Linked DNA regions of Homo sapiens: region 2 is linked to region 1. A link means that fine-mapping ties the variant in region 1 to the expression of a gene that starts in the linked region. Tissue or cell type: tibial artery. Region 1 holds a variant in brackets; the other region holds the start of a gene. All regions are shown on one strand. Distances are from middle to middle.

Region 1 (11,202 bases):
ACTGGATTTTTCTTCATCCTGATGACCGTACTGTGGTTTACCCGGGAGCCTGGCTTTGTCCCTGGCTGGGATTCTTTCTTTGAAAAGTAAGTGATATCATTTCCTCCTTAAGAACAACCCCCTCACCCCAATTCTTCAGGCAAGACTTCATAGACTCTCAGGGGCAGATATGAAGCCAGGAAGATTTCATTCCCCAGGAAATCCACTCTTTTTAGGGAGGCTGCAGTGTGAAATCAGGAAGGAAAAACACTCTTTGGAGTCCCGGTCTGGGGTTGGAATCCAGTGCTGCATGTAGTCTCATTACATAAGCTCTTGGAAGCTTGGTTACCTCATAGGTGGTTATGAAAGTTAAAGGAGGAAACATCTATAAAGTACCAACTGTAAAGAAGAAATCAACTTCTCACTTGAGAAGGGAGGCACATGGAGGTGTGGCCTTCATAGGAAAGAGGTCTCATCCTCTTCTATTCTCCTTTATCTAACCAACTCCACTCCTGATCACTCCATCTAGGACTTGCCCCAATTAACGGGCTCACAAATTCACATTAAGACATCTACTCTAGCCAGGCCCTGCCTCCAGACATTCGCCATTGCCCATTAAATCCAAAGTGGATAGCGTGGCAGCAACTGGCAAGAACTAAGCTTAATGTTACCTCTAGATAAGTCCTAAAAAGAGGCACTGTGTTCGGACAGACTGCTCCGAGACATCATGTTACTCCTGAAAATTCCTGACCCTTCTCCTCAGCTATGCTTGTCTCTTTACTAGGAAAGGCTACCGTACTGATGCCACAGTCTCTGTCTTCCTTGGCTTCCTCCTCTTCCTCATTCCAGCGAAGAAGCCCTGCTTTGGGAAAAAGAATGATGGTGAGAGAAGGGAAGAAACTGGGGGTAGCTCTAGTTGAAGAATACCCAAATCAGACTAATACTCCCAAAGAGATTTACCAAGGTCCTTCAGATTCCCACCCCCCTCCCGGCCCCCGCCCCAAATAGCAGTATCCCAAATCATCCACTTCACCAATTAGGCTCCTGTCTCCACAAATCACGTCCATCAGGGTTTATCTGGCTTTACATCTCTCTCTAATCCAGGAGAGAACCAGGAGCACTCACTGGGGACCGAGCCCATCATCACGTGGAAGGACTTCCAGAAGACCATGCCCTGGGAGATTGTCATTCTGGTTGGGGGAGGCTATGCTCTGGCTTCTGGTAGCAAGGTAATTCTTGAATTCTGTTTTTTTGGGGTTTTTTTTTTTGAGACAGTCTTGCTCTGTCACCCAGGCTGGAGTGCAGTGGCACAATCTCAGCTCACTGCAACCTCCGCCTCCTGGGTTCAAGCGATTCTCTTGCCTCAGCCTCCCAAGTAGCTGGGATTACAGGCGTGCACCATGATGCCAGCTAGTTTTTGTATTTTTAGTAGAGACGCGGTTTCACCATGTTGGCCAGGCTAGTCTCAAACTCCTGACCTCAAGTGATCCACCTGCCTCGGCCTCCCAAAATGCTGGGATGACAGGCATGAGCCACTGCACCCGGCTTGAATTCTGTTCTTATGGGTCAAATACTTTTCCAGCATCTTTACCTAATGAGTCATTATGGGCATGGGAGGAAAGACTCAAAGCAGCTGAGAATGTTCACAGAGTCCCTGGGAAGGGAAACAATAGAGCAGGATGGATGTCCTCTGCTGCCCTAAGCTTCTCAGCGCTACTAGGAACAGAGGAACAGATGGGCTGTGCCACACAGTCATGACACATGGGCATTGATAGTTCATCTATGGGGCCCATGCTGCTACAAGCAAAAGGTTTATTGGAGTTTGCAGCCATCTCCTTCTGGGATTTGACAGTGGCAATAGGAGATGGTAACAGGAGATAGACATAGGTAATAGGTAATAGGAGTGGTAATAGGCGATCTCTGTAAGGGACCAGAGATGCTCCAAGTGACACATGGTGAACTGTCTGTCCACAATACATAGACTGAGCCCCTTTGGAAAATCTAGGCTAAAGCTGATGTAAATGCTTCTTGATTTTCTGACTGGGAGGATTTTGGATGAGATCTTTTAAGTGGGGTGGGGATGTGAGGGGATGATTGAATTTCCTAAAGTGTTAGCCCTCCATAAAATAGAAAACAATCTTAAGAATGAATTAGGTTAAGGTTCAGACTATTTCTCCCTCCATCTCATCTACATGCATTATCCCATGCTAAACTTGGTTCTCTTTTTTTTTTTTTTTTTTTTTTTTTTTGAGACAGAGTCTCACTCTGTCACCTAGGCTGGAGTGCAGTGGCGCCATCTCTGCTCACTGCAACCCCTGCCTCCCAGGTTCAAGCAATTCTCATGCCTCAGCCTCCCAAATAGCTGGGATCACAAGCACACGCCACCACACCCAGCTTAATTTTTGTATTTTTAGTAGAGATGGAGTTTCACCATGTTGGCCAGGCTGGTCTTGAACTCCTGGCCTCAAGTGATCCACCCACCTTGGCCTCCCAAAGTACTGGGATTACAGGCATGAGCCACTGTGCCCGGCTTGGTTCACTTTTCATGGCCCAAAATACTATCTGCATTATTAATAATAAGGTCACAGAATACTCCACTAAGGAGAACCTTAGAAAACAATGAGTCCTATCTCCTGCCCATGGTGAGATTCCCCTCCATGGCACTTCTGGCTTGGACACTTCCAGTGACAAGGTACTCCCTGGGCAGGGAACAAAGAATAATTGTTCCTTATTTTCAGCTCAGGTCTTCTGCATGTTGTCTGTCCACTGTTGGCTCTAGCTCTGTTCTCTGGGACCCTCTCCTAGATAATAATTATTAACATGAAAAAATCAAGTAGTAGTGACCCATACCATCTGGTCTCTCTCCTCAGGACTCACTACACTTGGCCTTATTCAAACATAGTCTATGGGGTGGTCAGTCTACTGCCAAGTAGAGTAGTTATATTACCCAAGCCCCATCTCTCACCTCTGATTCAAGCAGCACCCTGCATTTTTATGGAAGCTTTTATAAAGCATCCTTGGCACTCATGTCAACAATTATATTAAAACTGCAGTCAATTAGAACCCTTCATTCTTTTTAACTGTTCATCATTACTGGACCTTCACCCCATCCTATATATATGCCATCAATATTTCTCATTCCAAGTTCGGGATATTTATATTTATCTTTATTGAATTTCAGTTGTTAGTTTTGGCCTCTGACAAGATTGGCCTGGCAAGATTTTATTTTTTTTTTTAACCAAAATTGGGCTGGGCACAGTGGCTCATGTCTGTAATCCCAGCACTTTGGGAGGCCATGGCGGGAGGATTGCTTGAGTCCAGGAGTTTGAGACTAGCCTGGGCAACATAGTAAGATCCTATCTCTACAAAAACAAAAGTTAGCCCAGTGTGGTGGTGCGTACCTGTAGTCCCAGCTACTCAGGAGGTTGAAGTGAGAGGATCGCTTGAGCCCAGGAGTTCAAAGCTGCAGTGAGCCAAGATCCCACCATTGCACTCCAGCCTGGGAGACAGAGGGAGACCCTATCCCCTGCCACCAAAACAAAAAACAAGAACAAAAACAAAAAAAAAACAATAAAAACAAAATTGTGCACATATTAGAGATAGTACAGTTATTTCTGTAAAGCCTACTGCCTCTACTAATTTTAATAATAATTTAGGTAGCATATATGTGATTCCTACAGAGTTTGAAATAATTTCAGTTTTGACATTAGTGAAGAAAATCCATTGTAAAATGTTTTCATACCAAGAGTTTAAAGAATTAAGACTTCCTTTGATTGTGTTTTTGTCTAACTTTGAAGTCTAATTTATTTCAAATCATAGTATAAAATAGTTCTGCTGGAAAAATAATTGCCAATAAATTATTTCACTTTACTAGGCCGGGCATGGTGACTCACGCCTGTAATCCCAGCACTTAAGGAGGGTGAGGCAGGAGGATCACTTGAGGCCAGGAGTTTGAGGCTAGCCTGGCCAACATGGTGAAACGTTGTCTCTACTAAAAATACAAAAATTAGTTAGGCGTGGTGGCGGACACTTTTAATCCCAGCTACTTGGGAGGCTGAGGCAGGAGAATCACTTGAACCCAGGAGGAGGAGGTTGCAGTGAGCCGAGATCGTGCCACTGCATTCCAGCCTGGGTGACAAAAGCAAAACTCCAGGGACTGGGCACAGTGGATCATGCCTGTAATCCCAGCACTTGGGGAGGCCAAGGTGGGTGGATCACCTGAGATCAGGAGTTTGAGACCAGCCTGGCCAACATGGTGAAACCTCGTCTCTACTAAAAATACAAAAATTAGCCGGGTGTGGTGGCACGCGCCTGTAATCCCAGCTACTTGGGAGGCTGAGGCCAGAGAATTGCTTGAACCTGGGAGGCAGAGGTTGTGGTGAGCCGAGATCGCACCACTGCACTCCAGCCTGGGCGACAGAGTGAGACTTCCTCTCAAAAAAAAAAAAAAATTTAGCCGGGGATGGTGGCACATGCCTGTAATCCCAGCTACCCAAGAGGCTGAGGCATGAGAATCATTTGGACCCGGGAGGCAGAGGTTGCAGTGAGCTGAGATGGTGCCACTGCACTCCAGCTTGGGTGACAGAGCACAACTCTGTCTCAAAAAGAAAAAAAAAATTATTTCACTTTACTTACCAGTACTATTTGGATAAC[G/ATG]TTAAGTAAAACTCCATCTCTTTATATAATGTACCATTTCCATTCAACTAACTGCTGTTCCTCCCCTGCCTCTGTCCAATGAGCAAGGTTTAATGTGTTACCAGAGGGAACAATTAAAGAGTTCCTGGAGGCCTTGGGGCTCTGAAACAAGCATTAATTGATGCAGTCTGCACATATTGGGTTTGTAAGCTCTCAGTGAGTTGAGAGGAAAAAAAGGAAGAAAAGTTCTACAAGGTGAAGTGGCTACAACAGAGAGAATTCTGAAGGCCTTTGGTCCTCAGTTGTCTATGAGCTTGCCAGGAGGTGGCCAGGGTACTGTAGAGATGAAATGAGCTTTTGATGAATTTGGAAGAGAGGAGAAAAAGTAACATGCTGGCAGTGTAGGGAAGGCGGTATTTAATAGTAAAACATGTGTAGCAGGACTTAAGAGCTTGAGGAATCATAAATGTCTCACCTTCCTTTCTGTCCCTGCTCTCCATATTGTCATTGCATTCGCAGTTTCTAGGGTACCATGGGAAAAGGCAGAGCCTGTCACCATAGAAGAGAGAGAGGAAGGGAGGCAGGATGCATATGGCAACCTGGAGTTTTTAATACAAAACTCAATGATACCTTTCATTTTTTAGGAGAGGGAGGTAGCCCTCCCTATTTGCAGGTGAACATCTTCCAACCAAATGAATCATTCCAAGTGGGAATATTTATTCATTTATTTTTTATTTTTTTGAGACAGAGTCTCACTCTGTCACCCAGGCTGGAGTGCAATGGCACAATCTCGGTTCACTGCAACCTCTGCCTCCCGGGTTCAAGCAATTCTCCTGCCTCTGCCTCCTGAATAGCTGGGATTACAGGCGCGTGCCACCACACCTAGCTAATTTTTGTATTTTTAGTAAAGGTGGGCTTTCACCACATTGGCCAGGCTGGTCTCAAACTCCTGACTTCAAGTGACCTACCTTCCTCAGCCTCCTAAAGTGCTGGTATTACAGGTGTGAGCTACCTCACCCAGCCAGAATGTTCATTTATTTAAGTGGATGTGTGTAACTGTTGCTAGTGGAATAAATTCAGGACGGTCAATATGCCTTCATATCTGTGTCTTCAAAAAGCACTGGCAGGCCAGGTGCGGTGGCTCACACCTATAATCCCAGCACTTTGGGAGACCAACGTGGGAGAATCGCTTAAGCCCAGGTCTGTTTGAGACAGGCCTGGGCAACATGGAAAGACTCTGTCTCTACAAATAAAAAGAGCAGGGCGTGATGGTATGTGCCTGTGGTCCCAGCTACTTGGAAGGCTGAGGTGGGAGGATTGCTTGAACCCAGGAGGTTGAGACTGCAGTGAGCTGTGATCATGCTGCTGCACTCATCCTGGACCCTGGGCAATAGAGCAAGACCCTCCTCTTAATTAAAAAAAAATTCCTGACAGATAGTAGAACTAATGTCAGCCATGATGAGATTTGAACCTAAAACAGGTTGGGGCTGAATGACCAGCCTCTATGGCACTTAAGAGGCACCTTCTCCACTAAGTGGAAATAGACTTTTATCCCCCTCTACTTTATTACTCCTGTAAAACCTCCAGTGCTCAGCCCTGCCTGTTCATCTCCTTAAAAACACAGGAAAGGCTACTATCCACAGATGTTGATAAATTTTTCCCTTTTTTAGGTAACAAAATAAACTGGTTTCAAAAGCAGATTAAATGGCTATACTTGGCACTCTGTGAAGGGCATTGTCGAATCAATGCACAGGGTAAGGATGTCAGAGGCTAGAGAAAGGGTAACGAGACTGAAGTTGAGGAGCAAAGATCTCCAACCTCTGACAAGTTGTCATGGCAAAGTCCTAAGAAGGATCATGGCAATTAGGGTGGCTCTCCATGTCCCATGACGAAACCCAAACACTGAATGTTGTGCAATCATAAAAACCAATTTTCTGAACTACAAAAATGATCGAACCATAAAAATCAGGAACACCTCTGGTTCCAGTCAGACTAAAGATCAGAGGATCCCTGGTCGTCCAGCCTTCCAACATCCCTGACCTTCTGAAGTCTAAGATCTCTAGCTGGGATGTGCTTCTTCTCCTTTCTTCTTACTGTAACACCTCTTCCTACAGAGCTCTGGCCTCTCTACATGGATTGGGAACCAGATGTTGTCCCTGAGCAGCCTCCCACCGTGGGCTGTCACCCTGCTGGCATGCATCCTCGTGTCCATTGTCACTGAGTTTGTGAGCAACCCAGCAACCATCACCATCTTCCTGCCCATCCTGTGCAGCCTGGTGAGTAATGCGGAGCTCCCAGACATCCAGACAGGCTGTCCCAGGGGCCTGGAGTGGCAGGCCTGGCTCAGGGCAGCTTCCGTAGCTGTAGGCTCTCCTCTGGTTACTGCCCACAGCCTTCACTAATTGGTGTTCAATTCCTATTTTGAAAAATGAAGTTTTTCAAATAGCAACTAGTAAATAAAAAGATACACTAATAAATCATAGCAAGAGTTCTAGAAACCTTTGTCCAAAAGAGTAGGATTAGTTTAGGGGCAGCCCTGAGTGGAAACCAAAGAACATACAAAATAATATTCAAACCCTATCATTTCAATTCCCCGCAATCATTATCAACCTTTCTCTCCTGAGATAAAACCTGAGTAGGGCCAAAGAGGTAGCCACAGAAAATGGAGGTAAAACACACACAGCTGAAAAGACTGAGCTCACAACTCAGACAATCATCACAGCCTCCACTGAGTTTCACTGTCCTCCGGGAAGTTCTGAGGATTGGGAGCAAGGTCAGCTTTGCTCCACAACCTCAGACCAATTTGTTGTGAATAGAATAAGGGAGGGGAGCAACGGCCAGATCTTAGCCTGGCCAAGCAGCCGGAAAGGTGATGCATCTGACCCAATGCTTCATCTGTCCCATTCTGGGAGGCAGAATCCAGGAAATGAAGGCCCCTCCTGACCCCAGCAACATAGTCTCCTACTGCTCTTTCTAACCCCAGAGCCATACTCTCTGCTCATTGCTCAGATGACCCCAACTTCTCCCTTCCGTCATCTTGCTCCTGCGAGCAACAGAGTGCAGTTAAAACTTGGCAACATTGAGAGCAGGACCATGGATTCAAATCCCATATAAAACAATTATCTTCCCTAGGAAAAAAAAAAAAAAAAAACCACCTTAGTTCTGTACCCTAAGACTGAGGAATCCCCACTTCAATCAAAGCAACCTATTCATGAGATTTGAGTTTAAGGAAAGGAAGTCTCAGCTAAAGAATAAAGTTTAGGAACCAATTCCTTAGAATAACACCAAAAAAATCAAACATCCCTTCTAGGGAGTAACTCAAAGCCATATTTCCATGTGGAGCAAGTAAGCAGCATCAGCCTATTCAGGTTGTCAAGGGACTGCATGCCCCAGAGGGCAGAGACCTAACTACCCCTCCACATAGTGTCCTGCTAAGGTTAGCCAGCACCAAGTCATCATTAAAGCATGCTCCTGACATTAAGCACAGGAAATGCAAGCCTAATCTCGTGAATGTTTCTGTGAATTCTCTCTTCTAGTCTGAAACGCTGCACATTAACCCCCTCTACACCCTGATCCCAGTCACCATGTGCATCTCCTTTGCAGTGATGCTGCCTGTGGGCAATCCCCCTAATGCCATCGTCTTCAGCTATGGGCACTGCCAGATCAAAGATATGGTGAGTTGGGGTGCCCTCTCCCTGCCAGGCCCAGCTGCCATGAGGACAGGGATGACAGCTCTGCAGCCTTCTTTCAAAGCTTATTTTGTAGCAGTGTCCCTGGCCTGTCAATGCTAAACCCAGTGTGGTAGCAAGAATAGCACCTATAAAAAGGTTTTTGTTGGTCTATAAGCACCAAGGATAGCAAGAATGTGCTCTCCCCAACCCTTCCCTGGAAGGAAGTGGGTACCTAGGTAGAGAAAGCTGGAACAGACAGGCTGTGGCCCAGTTCCAGAAGGCATGAGCCTGTGCAAACAAGTTTTGCCTTCGTTTCTTCATTAGGCCAGTGGAGACATTCATTGAGAAAGCTACTGGTTTATTCACAGAAGATGAGAATGAGGAAGTGTATGAACCTAGGGTGAAAGGTATTTTGAGAAAACAGGATTCTTCTGCTCAACTCACCCTCCACCCCGGCCCAGGCAAGAAACCCCTGAAGCAACAATGGAAAATGAAGCGTCCACCATTCATTTTCATTTTCAGCTGGGCTCACAAAAGATGGCTTTGAGATATTTTGCTGCTGACTTTAGCACTGGGCCTATCTACCTTCTACTCCTCTACCTATACACCTGCTGCTATACTTAGTATCCAGGGCTGAGCGGGGGGGGAGAGGATGGAAAACACTGATACGAATTACTGATGGTCTGACAATTTTTTTTCATGGGAGCCAAATTTGTTCTCGGGCAGCCCTGTAAAGTAACAAATAGAGGAAAGGAAGAAAAAGTTTCAGGCTGGTGGCAGATATTCAGGTCCTTTTTTATCCTTTTTTTTTTTTTTTTTTTTTTTTTTTTGAGACAGAATCTCACTCTCACCCAGGCTGGAGTTCAGTGGTGCGATCTCGGCTCACTGCAACCTCTGCCTCCCAGGTTCAAGTGATTCTCATGCCTCAACCTCCAGAGTACCTTGGACTACAGGTGTGCGCCTCCATGCCCAGCTAATTTTTGTATTTTTAGTAGAGATGGGGTTTCACCATGTTGGTCAGGCTGGTCTTGAACTACTGGCTTCAGATGATCTGCCTGCCTTGGCCTCCCAAAGTGCTGGCATTACAGGTGTGAGTCACTGCTCTCAGCCTATTCAGGTCCTTTCGACTGTTCGAACTGCTCATCTAAGTCATCCGTGATACTTCCTTGAATGGAGTGTCCCAGCCATCCCTCTCCCCTCCCATCTTACTGCGTAACCCTCAGTCTGCTCACGCTGAGCTCTACCCCAGCTCTCCTGTCTCCCGCTTCCTCTGCTGTGTGCCCCCACCACTGACCCCTAGCTTTCTACACTGGAATCAAATGATCAGAGGCAGTAATTTTCAAAGGTACCAGGTGACAAGAAGTGAGCCAGTCTTGGGCACTATTCCCAGCTTGGGCACTACCTTGACTTCAATTTCCTCATCTGCTAAATGATGAGGTTCCAGCTGGATGCTCCATGGGGTCCCTTTCAACTCTAACACTCCTTAATTTAGCCCTGCTAGAACCTGCCCTCTCACCTGTGGGGAAACATGGGCTGTCCTCCATGCCAAAATGCCCAGGGGGCCCCGACCAGACGGCAGGAGAGAGAGGACACGTCTAGCCATTTGCTTGAAACAATTTCCCAGCATCCACTTTCCCCTTGCAATTTTCCCAACTTAATGCCAGCTAGTGACTTGTCTTGGCTACATGCTATATGCCTGGTTACTCCTTGGGAAGATGCCAGCTATCCTTACAGGACACATTTTTCCATCTGGCTCTGCCAGCCCACCATCTCTCACATCCCCCACTTCAGCCTGTGGGTGTCAATGTCAAGGCAGAAGTGAAAAGGGTCAGTCACTGAGGTGTAATTCCCTCAGAGGAAAGAAGCAAAGGCTCCATTCCAGCTAGCATGCCTGTGTCCCCTTCTTGAGGAAGAGCTGAGCAGAGGCAGCTAAACCGTTTCCCCAAGTGAACTCAAGGTACACTATTTCCATGAGCTGTTCCTTAAAAAAAGGTAACAGTAGCAAAGGCTTCATGTAATATAGCCCCTCGTACAAGTTCCCTGTATTAACGCATCGGGGCTCTGAGAAGTTCCTGCTTTACAGAGATCTGGTTAGTTTTGTTTAGCACATTTCCCTATCAGTGAGCTGCAGAAATACCTCTTCACGTTCCACAGAGTGGGTGTTCCAAGTAACTAACATACCTTCTAGGCTTCCACTTGAAATCTAGTGAGAGTGCTGTAAGCATGAAGTGGAGATGACTCTAATTGTCCCTTTCCCGCCTTTCCACAGTCCTGTGCACCCTACAAGGCAATGCTAGAGCACCCCAGGCAGCAACTGGGAACTAATCTGGGCCACAAGGCATAGGCTGCAGGAACAGAAGGGGGACTTGGGGATCTGTGCTGCTGCTGGTCAGAGTGACTAGGGTGTGCTGGTTTGTGTCCTGCAGGTGAAAGCTGGCCTGGGAGTCAACGTTATTGGACTGGTGATAGTAATGGTGGCCATCAACACCTGGGGAGTTAGCCTCTTCCACCTGGACACTTACCCAGCATGGGCGAGGGTCAGCAACATCACTGATCAAGCCTAACGCCAAGTGTACAAACTGGCCCAACCACAGGAGCTGCCAGTATCCAGCAGTATCTGGACCACAGGCAAAGAAAACCACTAGGACCACCAGGAGCACACAACCCCAGACCCACGCCGGAGGGCATCCCTCCACCAGAAGATTCCGCCACCTCAAGTGAACTGCAGGAATCCTCCAACAACCACAAACACATGCTTCGCTGTTAGTGTCTTCTTCCTGCCCTCAGCACCACAGCTCAAGAAAACCTAAAGTTTCAATACAAGCCATAGGCTCACAGAAAAAGAAAAAGAAAATAAAAATTAAATTAAAAAAAAAGAAGACAAAGAAAACCTAAAGTTGTATCTAGTCTTTGTAATCCA
Region 2 (11,202 bases), 40 kb before region 1:
TTTCAGATGACAGAATTCTACCCTTTCAAATGCCAAAACTTTCCTTTTATAGATATTGACTCGATATCTTTTTAAACTATATATACAAATCACCTTAAGCTTTTGTTTAGTGTAAGATCATCATTCAAACATTCTTGTGTGTGTGTGTGTGTGTGTGTGTGTGTGTGTGTGTGTGTGTGTGTGTGTGATGGAGTCTCGCTCTGCCATCCTGGCTGGAGTGCAGTGGCACTATCTCGGCTCGCTGCAGTGTCTGCCTCCCGGGTTCAAGCGATTCTCCTGCTTCAGCCTCCCGAGTAGCTGGGACTATAGGCGCGCACCACCACACCTGGCTAATTTTTGTATTTTTAGTAGAGACAGTTTTTCGCCATGTTGGCCAGGCTGGTCTCAAACTTCTGGCCTCAAGTGATCCACCCGCCTCAGGCTCCCAAAGTGTTGGGATTATAGGCGAGAGCCATTGCGCCCGACCATGTCATCATTTAAACATTCTAATGAAGGAGTTGGATAAGATAATCTCTAAGACTTCTACCTATGAAGTTCCTACAATCCTTTAACTGTGAGATGCCACAAGGAGAGCACCTGGATCTAAGAAGTCAGCTCAACTGTTTGTACCAACCCTGAGAGGTCCCAGACTGCTCATTCTGTGTTCAGTTCTGAGTTTCCCTGCTGCCTCCCTCACTGTCAGGCTATTAGAGCATATTTTTCTTTGTTACCAATGTAACTTGCCCTTCACAGTCTGTTCTTTCTTAGCTGGCCATTGCCTACAAACTACGATAGCCAGGTTTGTTATAATTCTATGTTAAATAAGAGTTAATAGATGAAGTCCTCTGCTAGGGGTCGAGCGTCTGGGTCCTAATAAGGATTCCTCATTAGCTCAGAGATCTTTCTGTCTTCTCCTAAGTTTACAGCTGAGCTCAGCAAGCAAAAGCTGCAACAAGTCTGATCTTTGAATGAGTGAGGATTTATTGGGCTAAATTTGATTCTGAAATGGGTATTTAACAGTTGTCATTTGATAATGATGAGGTCTGGACTCCTTCAAAATCTTTGAGCAAATAAGCTTTGCATAGCAGTGCTAGCCGCATGATCTTTTTGGAGAAATACTAGGACACTGGAAGAAGGTATTCATCATCAGAGAAAAACACAGCTTTGCATCCTGATATTCTCAGGCTCAGAAGATTAGTAAGTCTCAGTTTCTCTTTCTCATTCCCTGACCATTCTGCTCTTTTACCTCCTCCAAATGCAGATTCTGATATATGCTTTTTTTGTTCAATCTTTCTTTTTCTAAATGTACATATTCTCTCTGACATGGTCACTCTGCTTGTCTCTGTCTTTCTTTCTTTTATTTTAGTTGGTATCTCTGCTGCTGTATATTTGGGCCCAATTCCAAATATCTCTGTATCTGTTTTTTGATGCATCTCCAAGACTCTTCTGCTTGACTTTTGCTCTATCTCTGCTGACCCACACTCTAACACTCACTGTCTGTCAGTCTTCTCTGGGTATCATTGTCTAAGTAAAACACAAGTCAGTGTACAGACAGCGTTGGGATCGGCCAGAGGCAGATAAACATGGTAGCCTATCTTCACAGTTTGTACTTTTCCTAGATGTCAGATGGGGAGTGGATTAGCAATGGCCTCAGTCCCTAGACACTGTGCAATACCCTGATAGTCAGTCTTGTATCCCGCCCCGAGGCTCCACTCCCTTGACAATGGATCTGAAAGCTTTCTTGTACTCAGAATCATCAGATGGAAAGGCCCACCCTTGTAGTCCCTGACCACCATGTTATGTAGATGGCTGCTCCCAGTAGTAAGAAATCCATGAATGGGAAGATGGTTCCCAGGAACATTCACCCAGCAACAAAAAAATTAAACACAAATTGGGGCTTGAATTTTTGTGGCAATCAATGACTGAAAAAAAAATAGAAAAAAGAAGGACATGACCTTTTTAAAGACAAATGAAGACTCATTTTCAGTAACTAGAGTCTTAAAAACTATTTTAATCTGAATGCAGATCATTGTTTACCCACAGAGAGTTTTATGACAATGATTTCACTGACATGCAGAATCAAATATTATGATCACCACCAGCAGCCAAAAAACCCTATTCTTTGCCCAAGGAGTAGTAGAAATGTAGACTAGACAGACAAACAGGGTCTCCTATTTTGCCTCATTAGTGCCACACTCTATACAACTACAGTCACGAAGGGGTCACATTTGGTTATAATTACTATTAGAATAATATGGGAGTGTGATGTTTGTGGTGGAAACTTGCCCATGACTTATGTAACCATTTCTGCTGACAAATTTTAGGATCTAAAAACTTTGTGGGTTTTTTTGTTTTGTTTTTGTTTGTTTGTTTTTGGGACAGTCTCGCTCTGTCACCCAGGCTGGAGTGCAGTGGCACCTCCGCCTACAGTGTTCAAACGATTCTCCCACCTCAGCCTCCCAAGTAGCTGGGACCACAGGCACACGTCACCATGCCCTGCTAATTTTTTTGTATTTTTAGCAGAGATGGGGTTTCACCATGTTGGCCAGGCTGGTCTCAAACTCCTGACCTCAAGTGGTCCACCTGCCTCAGCCTCCCAAAATGCTAGGATTACAGGCGTGAGCCACCGTGCCTGGCCCAGGATCTAAAAACTTTCTAAGTTTCCTCCATCGTTGGCATCCTCACAGCTATCTCCAATGTCACTCAAGAGACATCAACAGACATTTAACTGCTGCAGACTTCATTGCTCTGTCACCTCACCTTGAATCTAACAAATCAAAGTATTTCTGCAGGTCCAATGGTCTAAAATCAAATGCTTGTTAAATGACTTTTTACAACACCCCTTACTTTCCTAATCCATTTCAATCTTATTTTTTTTATTGTGGTAAAAAACACATCAGGTAAAATGTACCATCTTAACCATTTTTAAGCATATGGTACAGCAGTGTTAACTCCATGCATGTTGTGAAACAGACCCCCGGAACTTTCTCATCTTGTAATTCTGAAGTTCTATACCCACCGAACAACTCCTCTTTTCCCCTTCCCCCTGCCTGCCCCAGCTCTTGGCACCATTATTCTGCTTTCTGTTTTTGAGAGTCTGACTACTTAAGATACCTCATACAAGCGGGATCTGGCTTACATTTCTTGAGCATTGTATTCTGGAAAAGTGTTTCCTTCCTCTGAAAAATGGGTAGAGTTCTGAAGGAGAACTACTGGTCTTATTGTACACTTGCTGTACCTATTTTTATTTAACAAATATTCATCTATGGTATAATAAAGATGTCATGATTGAGTTGCTCACTGGAATCTTTGTTATCTCAGAGTATCTCACCGAGGAATTTGGAATGGTTCATGGGTTTAACAGTGGATGTTGACTTCCACAGCTGCTTATAATTATTCGCTGTCTTTAATGTTTGCGACCAAAACATCACACACGTGGTATTGTTCATTCTGAGTTTCAAAATCATAACCAAAAAAAAATGAGGCCAGAATGTAGTAAATACAGTAGCCAGTCTTTAACATGCATTTAAAGAGTTGAGTCATCCTAGCCCATCCTACGATGGCAAGATAATTTCAAAGGGGACCTCAGCTGTCCACAGTTGCACCTGCCTTAAAAGTCAAGAAGAATTTGTTTTTTGGGTCACTTCCCTGGTCACTTTAGCCTGGGGATCATTTCCAAGTAGTATAGTTGCAGATCTTCGAACGCCATTCCTGTGTTCTGTGAATTCAAGACAACATGGGTTTTATAACCCTTTGACTCTGCTCAGCATCTCCCAGATCAAGGTAAGGTAATGTTGCCAAGAACCACTACTTACAGAATGTTTGGGCTTTTGCTTTTGCTTTTCTTCCTTGCCCCAAATCCACATGTCCGTTCTGAGAAAAGAAGCTAACAACTTCTTCCAATCTGTAAACAGGAGAAATTCCAGAGTTCAACTGCAGCTAAGACCTTGTCCCTGAACTTGTCAACTTCTTCCCTGCCCTCCCACCTCCTCCTTTCGTACCAGCCAAAGAAGGTCTTCGGTTTCCTTTTTGGAGAGCCCCAGAGAGAAGCATTTGAGCACCTACTTTAGCCAGAGAGACCACTGACATCTGGGCATGAGACTGGCATCTAGACTTTGCCAGGGAGGCAGCTATACTTCCCAAAAGATCTGGGGTCTTTCTCACGAGCTCATACCCTCTGCTGGCCTAGACCCTTTATATTCCCCCCTCGGTGCTGAGGCAAACGATCTTTGCCAGCAGGGAGGTCTGAAAGGCTTAACTTTGTACACTCTGAGGCAAATTCTCCAGAAGTAATGTTGCATTTTCTCCCTGCCACCAGGCACATTCCCTTCCCAAGGTCTAGATCAGCAGGTGGCCCTCCCAGCGAAAGCTCTGTGTCCTATGATCCGAAACAATAAAGCTGTGCTTGGGTACGTGAGATTATGTTTACGATGATGGTCATCACTCCAGCCCTAGGAAGTTTGAGAAACTGAAAAATAAGCTTAGCAGGCTGCCTAGGTTCTGCGGAATCAGCAGGCCCCCGCTGTGACCAATCAAGAGCGGCCGCGGGGAGAGAAATTGACTCATTCTTTTCAATTTGCTGATTGGCTTTGAGAAGTGGGCGGAGCTACTGTCTCTGTCCCGGCTTCCCATTGGTGGATGAAAGTTAAAGGTGGGCCTCCAGCAAGTTTTGTCCTTTGATAAAAAGGAATGTCTTGGGGACTTTTCTTTTCTGCTTTGCAGGCCCAGGCTCAAGGCAAATTATAAGTAGGGAACCAATTTGAGGGAAAGACATGTGAACAGAGTTAAGGTACCACGTCCTGGGAGCGACCAGCAGCCCCACCTGAAGTCCGCATGCAACTCTGACAAGCTCAGGTGCTTGTTTTAAGGAAAGGGGCTACTAGAGTCTTACCAACAGCGAGCCCAGGTGGGAGATGAAACAGGTACTCCCCAAAATAGGTCATCCGAGGGAGGAAAACTGATGGAGAGCACAATGTGCTCTGAGCGTTTTTAATGTTTTTAAGCTTTTAAATGATTTCTTCAAGGCCGAGCAGCAGCAGCAAAGGTGTGGCTTAAAGGATTAAGGGGGTTTCTGCTGACACCTAGAATGAAGTTACTCTATTACTAATCAAGCCGAGAGGAGGCCCACTATGCCCCCGTTTATCATCCTTTCCCAGTTCCTTTTTGCTGGTCACAAAACGATGCTCATCAATCCCACCTAAAGCAGGAGGCCAGGAGCCCAGCCTCTTGTAGAAACAGCGAGGGTATAACTGCCCTCCCGTTCTGCCCCCAAGACGAAGGAGGACTCTCGGAAGCCAAGAAAGGTTTAAGAAGTCTTTCTGGATAGAGAGCAGTGCCCAGGCAGGAAGCCTTTCGCCGGCAGAGCGGGGTCCAAGGACGAGCTGGAGAGGACAGAGGCGCGATGGGCCTGCTGCAGGGCCTGCTCCGAGTCCGGAAGCTGCTGCTGGTCGTCTGCGTCCCGCTCCTGCTGCTGCCTCTGCCCGTCCTCCACCCCAGCAGCGTGAGTACCGACCTGCGCCCACCGGGGGTCTGGGAGTCAGTGGGAGGGCAAAGAGGGGAGGTCGGTAGGGGAACATGGGGCGCTCAGGCAGTCCCTCAAAGTGGCTTGTGGTGGGTTTAAAGAAATGGAAGGATTTTTCCAGAGGAAACCAAGATATCTTCTTCCTAAAAGCTGTCATGTTCATCTCCTATCCCAGTCCCATTCCCCCAACCCCATGGCCCCCACCGGGGTCAGGACAGAGTAGGGGCCTTGGCAGAAGTGACTGATGGGTGTTGCACCAAGCAGCAGGCCAGCCTGCCCCAGCAGCGGGGGCCAGCGACACCCATGCAAACGACATGGTGCACCTGTGTTTGTCGGGAGTTCACCTGGGACCCTGGTTATCTGAGAGCCCCTGGAGACACAGAAAGAGCTCCCAATAGTGGCACTGAGGAGAAGGTTGGGGGAGGAAGAGAACCGTGGAGCCAATCCGTGGTCTGTGGTCGTGTCCTGGTGGGCTTCGATGACCACAGTTGAAGCTCTAATCCCGAAGGCGCCTATCAACTTCAGGGAATGAATGTTTAGGGAAGGAATGAAAGCAGAACTTAGCAGGCTGCCCTGCTCCCATGCACGTGGCCTTGAATTATTTGTGTCTTCTGTGTTTTCTTCTCTGTCCTCTTGAAGGACAGACAAAAAGTGACACGATAAAAAAGAGATAAGAGCCCCCAAACTCTAGCCCGTGACCTCATTCTTCACCTGGTTTGTGAGAACAGAGGAACCTCAGCTCTGGCTCAGCATCCAGCTTGCCTGTCACACCCTCCTGGTGGTCACCTGCTTCCCTTCCCTTCCCTCCGCTGTTCTCTTCCTCCTGTCTGTGGCTTGTCCCCTTCCCCCAGCTGGCACTGCCCTGGAGACTTTAGGAAAAATAAGCTAAAACAGGTTAATCACGTTTGTAGGAGGGGGAGCAATTCTTCCACTCTGCTCCTTAAGTAACTTGGTAACCAAGATTAAGTTAAACAGTTAAACAGAGGGGATTAGGATGGTTCTTCTTAAAAACAAACTGGCTTAAATCTTTCATAGAATAAATACTCCAGAGTGCCAGGGAGACGCTGATTAAAACTGGGCTGGGATTAGCAGACAGTGATTGCTGCTGACATTCTTCCTGGACTGTACCCTAGTCAATTTTCTGCTTTGTCCAAATGGGCCTGATTTTTTTTCTTTTTGTGGCTTTTCTTGTTTTTGTTTTTTCTCCATGTAGGTTGCTATAAGGGACTGTTACCGAGAGACATACTAGCCTCCTCTCCCAAGCAGTATCAGGAACCTCTCATATCTCCTGGTTGAGGCAGCCCCATCTTTGGGGACCTTGGCCACTGCCCACAGAAGGCACAGACTAGGTGCCCAGCAGGTAGAGTTTCATCCATCCGTCACCCCTTTCATCAAACTTTTTTTTGTAGACGCAGAGTCTCACTCTGTCACCCAGTCCGGAGTGCGGTGGCACAATCGTAGCTCACTGCAGCCTTGAGCTCCTGGGGTTAAGCAATCCTCGTGCCTCAGCCTCTGGAGTAGCTGGGACTACAGGCAAGCAAGTACCACCACATGCAGCTAATTTTTAAAAAAATTTTTTTTGTAGAAATGGGGGTTTCACTATGTTGCCCAGGCTGGTCTCAAACTCATGGTCTGACGTGATCCTCCCAAAGTGTTGAGATTACAGGTGTGAGCCACCGTGCCTGGCCTGCATCAAACTTTTAGAGTCTGATATTTAACCCTTAAAATTCCAAATGGATTTTCTTGCTCTGGACTGGAGTTGAGAGCAGTGATGGAGTACCTGGGCAGGAGCTCCTGGCCTGCAGTTTTGATGGTTCTAAGCGACAAGCCTCAGCTACATTTTAGGAGGAGTCAAAATGACCTTCCCCCTTTTTCTTGCCCAACTCTCTAAAACTAGAGGTCCAGACACTGTTTATCATGTTATAGAAGAAGAGGGTACAAGAGACAGCATCCATAACTAAGCCCTTCCTCAGTGCCCCCAGTGGGATAAAAGTTGCATCTCAACTGCCCAAGCTAAATTTTTTAAAAGGCGCCCCCAGTCATTGATGATAACAGATAACAGACTTCAACCTCCTTCCCGTGAAGTTGGAGTGGGATATCACTGGGGTGGTCAAACTGCGTGGAAAACGAGCAGTTCCACGCCTAAGTGAGTAGCTGACTAGGAAACGTCCTACATGGGGAAATGCCACTTTCGAACTCTTTCCTTTACTTGTAAACGGGAGCCAAAAAATAGTAGATAGCATGTCCCTTGAAGATATTGTCTGAACACTCACCAATGCCCAACCCCCACATACCTGCTATTATAAGGAACCAGTGGTGTTGTTAAAGAGCCTGGGGGTTGCAGAATATTCTCTCCAGAAGATGAGCGAGACCTGACAGCCAGCAGAGAAGTCCAGTGCAGTTCAGCCCACGTGAATTGAACCACCTGCTAGACATGGGATAGGCGTTGGGGACATCGGACTCCTTGTAAGCAAACTTTGCAGTATTTTTGGTTGTCTGAATACAAGCTTACCTCCTGAATTTTGGGAAGCTTTAGAAGGGGAAAAATGAAGTTTATGGAGATTCCATGGGTGAAATAAGTGGAAACTGTATGGAAAGACTCTCTAAAGGTGTCTCTTGTCCATTCTTCTACTCTAAGGAAAATCCAGGTAAAAAATGATAGTAATTAATCCTGTCCTTAATACAGCTGGGTGAAGGTGGCCTGATGACTTACTTCTTCCAGTAACCTAGTCGCATGTCTAACAATATTTACAACCAAAATGTTTGCTTTATTTTACCCACATTCTCCTAATTGAAAACTAAAGGCACCTGGCAGAGGGAAAGTCCTCTTTCTTTCTCTCTCTCTCCTTTCTTCTTTTTTTTTTTTTTTTTTTTTTCTGAGACAGAGTCTCACTCTGTCACTCAGGCTCTGGAGTGCAGTGGCACAACCTTGGCTCACTGCAACCTCTGCCTCCCGGGTTCAAGGGATTCTCCTGCCTCAGCCTCCAGAGCAGCTAGGATTACAGGCATGTGCCACCACACCTGGATGAATTTTTTGTATTTTTAATAGAGACAGGGTTTCGCCATGTTGGCCAGGCTGGTCTCGAACTCCTGACCTCAACTGATCCACCCACCTCGGCCTCCCATAGTGCTGGGATTACAGGCTCTTTTCCTCTTTCTCCTTTCCCTTTCTCTGCACCTTCTCTCCCCACCTCCTTCCCCTTAACTTGTAACTTGTAGCCCTGTAATGACCAGATCAAGAAAGACTAAGGGTTCCAGGAAGAAATAAGGGTCCCCAGTGAGGGGCAGACATTTTGTCTCTCAACTCTTTCTCTTCAACTGGAGTTAAGATCTGCCACTCTGTCTCTTTCCCAGAAGAGAGATGAGAACACGTGGGTTTGAACTCCTTTAGGTAGTTTTATTTCTATAGCAAACAGGGTATTTCTCTAAATTGAATTTGTTTCCAAGTGGAGCCTCTTTTTTTTTCCACCATTGGTTCTGTTGTCTTATCAGCACTTCCAAAAGTTTTATCTTCCCTCTGATCTTTTGGCCCCAGAGAACATCTCAGTGGGGAGCTACAGTCAACTTTTGGGCCCAGTTCCCATTTCTCAAACCCCAATCCCATAATCCACGAATGTCAGGAGGGCACAAGGTCCTTGCCAGCCCAGCTGATTTAATCACTCCTGCTGCCCCTTACTGATACAGCGACCTTTTGTAACTTTTATGCAAGAGTTTGAGGACGCGTGTTCTGAACTCAAGGGGCCATAAACAGCAAGATTTGTCAGGTTCCTTGATCAGCAGCCAGCCTCAGGGCAAATCAGACACGAGTCCTGATGGTTTACAACTATGTAAAAATTGAGGATCCCACAGCCAACTTGGATTTTCTATAAATGCTCTTCTGAGTCACGGAGCTTGGTGATGTTACCATTAACAAGGCCCATGAACTGCAGCCTCTCCCTAGAGTAAGGCGGTAACCTGTCTTAACAGCGTTCATCAGCATAATTCAGGGCAATCAACACAACTAGAGGGCAAGCTGATGGAGGGCTGGCTTCTGATAAGAATGTTGTACTTAATTACCCTGTGCACCCCTAGGTTGTCCAGCCAGCAAAGTGAGTGGGCTATGGAAAATGCTGGTGAATGTCCAGGCCTCCCCTTCCAGATAGATGGCTGTCTTCAGTCTTTGTAGATGGATGTTTCCATGGTGTCAAGCGGATAGAATGGAGTCCAAGAGCAACGAGAACCAGACCCTGGTTAGGGCAGTGGCTCTCAACCAGGAATCATTTTACCTCCCCAAGGGACATTTGGCAATGTCTAGAGATGGTTTTTTGCTTGTCACAGTGGAGGAAGTGCTACCGGCATTTAGTGGGTAGAGACCAGGGATGCTGCTCTTTTACAGTGCACAGGACAGCCCCCCTGCAAGAAGAAACTATGTGGCCCTAAATGTCAGTAGTACGAAGGTTGACAAACACTGAGTTAGGAGCTGATGCTTCTTCATCCAAAATGAGAGTTCCATGCTCAGGATCGCTGCCTTCCTCTTCAGTCTTCCCTTCCCTCTCCCAGGGAAGGGAGCTCCTTATTAACTCTTACAGGGGCCTTTGGGAGAAGGATTCAGTCTCTAGATGCAAAACATGGTAGGACCTCAGATCCAAAATTGAAGGGGGAAATGGTCAACCAGTTCTTCAAGTTGCCTAATAATTTATTTGATTAAAATTTACTACTGAATCAAGTTGTTTCAGCAAATAGTCTAAAACAGGGGGATTTAACTTTGTTTATTCATTTTTAAAGCAATAAAGCTTTTTTTTTTTCAAATCTCACATGTAATGTTCGTATATGAATCAAATGAGAACAAAGCTACTCCATTTGGGATGAGGCTGGAGAGGGGGTCCAGATTCCAGGCCTTGCTGATCCCCCTGGTATATTCTTGAGACACACCCCAGATGCCCAGGGCTGTAAGAGCACAGTCCAGAAGCCACCTTTTGGATTGTTTATAAATCTCACTTCTTACTGATCCACTTCTCTTCAGTCAGGCACACACCAATGCCACATATCTTCATATCTTAGGCACATGTGTCAAACTCAGGATGACTGATCTCAGAGCTCACATGTGAACGAACTGTTTTTTTTGTTTGTTTGCTTGTTTTTTTGAGACAGCATTGTACTCTATAGTCCTGTAGTCCAAGCTGGAGTGCAATGGCATATGATCATAGCTCACTGCAGCCTGAAGCCCCTGGGCTCAAGTGATCCTCTGGCATCAGCCTCCCAAGTAGCTGGGACTACAGGCCTGTGCCACCACACCTGGCTAATTTATATTTTATTTTTTAGAGATGGGGTCTTGCTATATATTGCCCAGGCTGGTCTCAAACTCCTGGGCTCAAGTGATCCTCCCACCTTGGCCTCCCAAAGTCCTGGGATTACAAGTGCAAGCCCCAGCCCCCACCACACATAGTGATTCCTATCTCCAACTACCCCAAGAACTTCTAATATCCAGTCAACTTAACACCAATTACATCCCAGTCCAAGTTAAAGCTTTGAACTCCACTTGTATGGTTTTGTGATCATGGGTCTGGTCACTGCAGTTAAGTTCAGTCCCCACCTTGGCAGTTTCCAGAACCCTCCGAGCTGCCTGGCTACACACCAGTGCAAACCACACGCCAGGCATCGGTCCCCGAAGGAGCAGCCATAATGTCACCCACCAAAGGATGGACTCACCATGTATTCACCAT

Evidence for each region. PIP is the estimated chance that this variant, and not a neighbour inherited with it, causes the effect. A credible set is the group of variants that fine-mapping cannot tell apart.
Region 2: it holds the start of SLC13A4, and the variant in region 1 is the best candidate, but not a certain one, in a credible set for the expression of SLC13A4 in tibial artery (GTEx, PIP 0.55).

The regions. Positions count from the first base shown.
Region 1 is chr7:135,681,207-135,692,408 of GRCh38, reverse strand. SLC13A4 (solute carrier family 13 member 4) reads left to right here. Exons shown (of 16, transcript NM_001318192.2): 11 at 1-86; 12 at 764-861; 13 at 1,084-1,208; 14 at 6,726-6,887; 15 at 8,148-8,285; 16 at 10,709-11,178. The coding sequence ends at 10,846. LOC105375521 (a long non-coding RNA gene) reads right to left here and starts at 5,398. Exons shown (of 5, transcript XR_928021.3): 1 at 5,087-5,398; 2 at 3,381-3,505; 3 at 651-838. The variant G/ATG (reference allele first, on the strand shown) is at 4,633.
Region 2 is chr7:135,721,675-135,732,876 of GRCh38, reverse strand. SLC13A4 (solute carrier family 13 member 4) reads left to right here and starts at 4,691. Exons shown (of 16, transcript NM_001318192.2): 1 at 4,691-5,479. The coding sequence starts at 5,381. FAM180A (family with sequence similarity 180 member A) reads left to right here. Exons shown (of 4, transcript NM_205855.4): 4 at 2,596-3,285.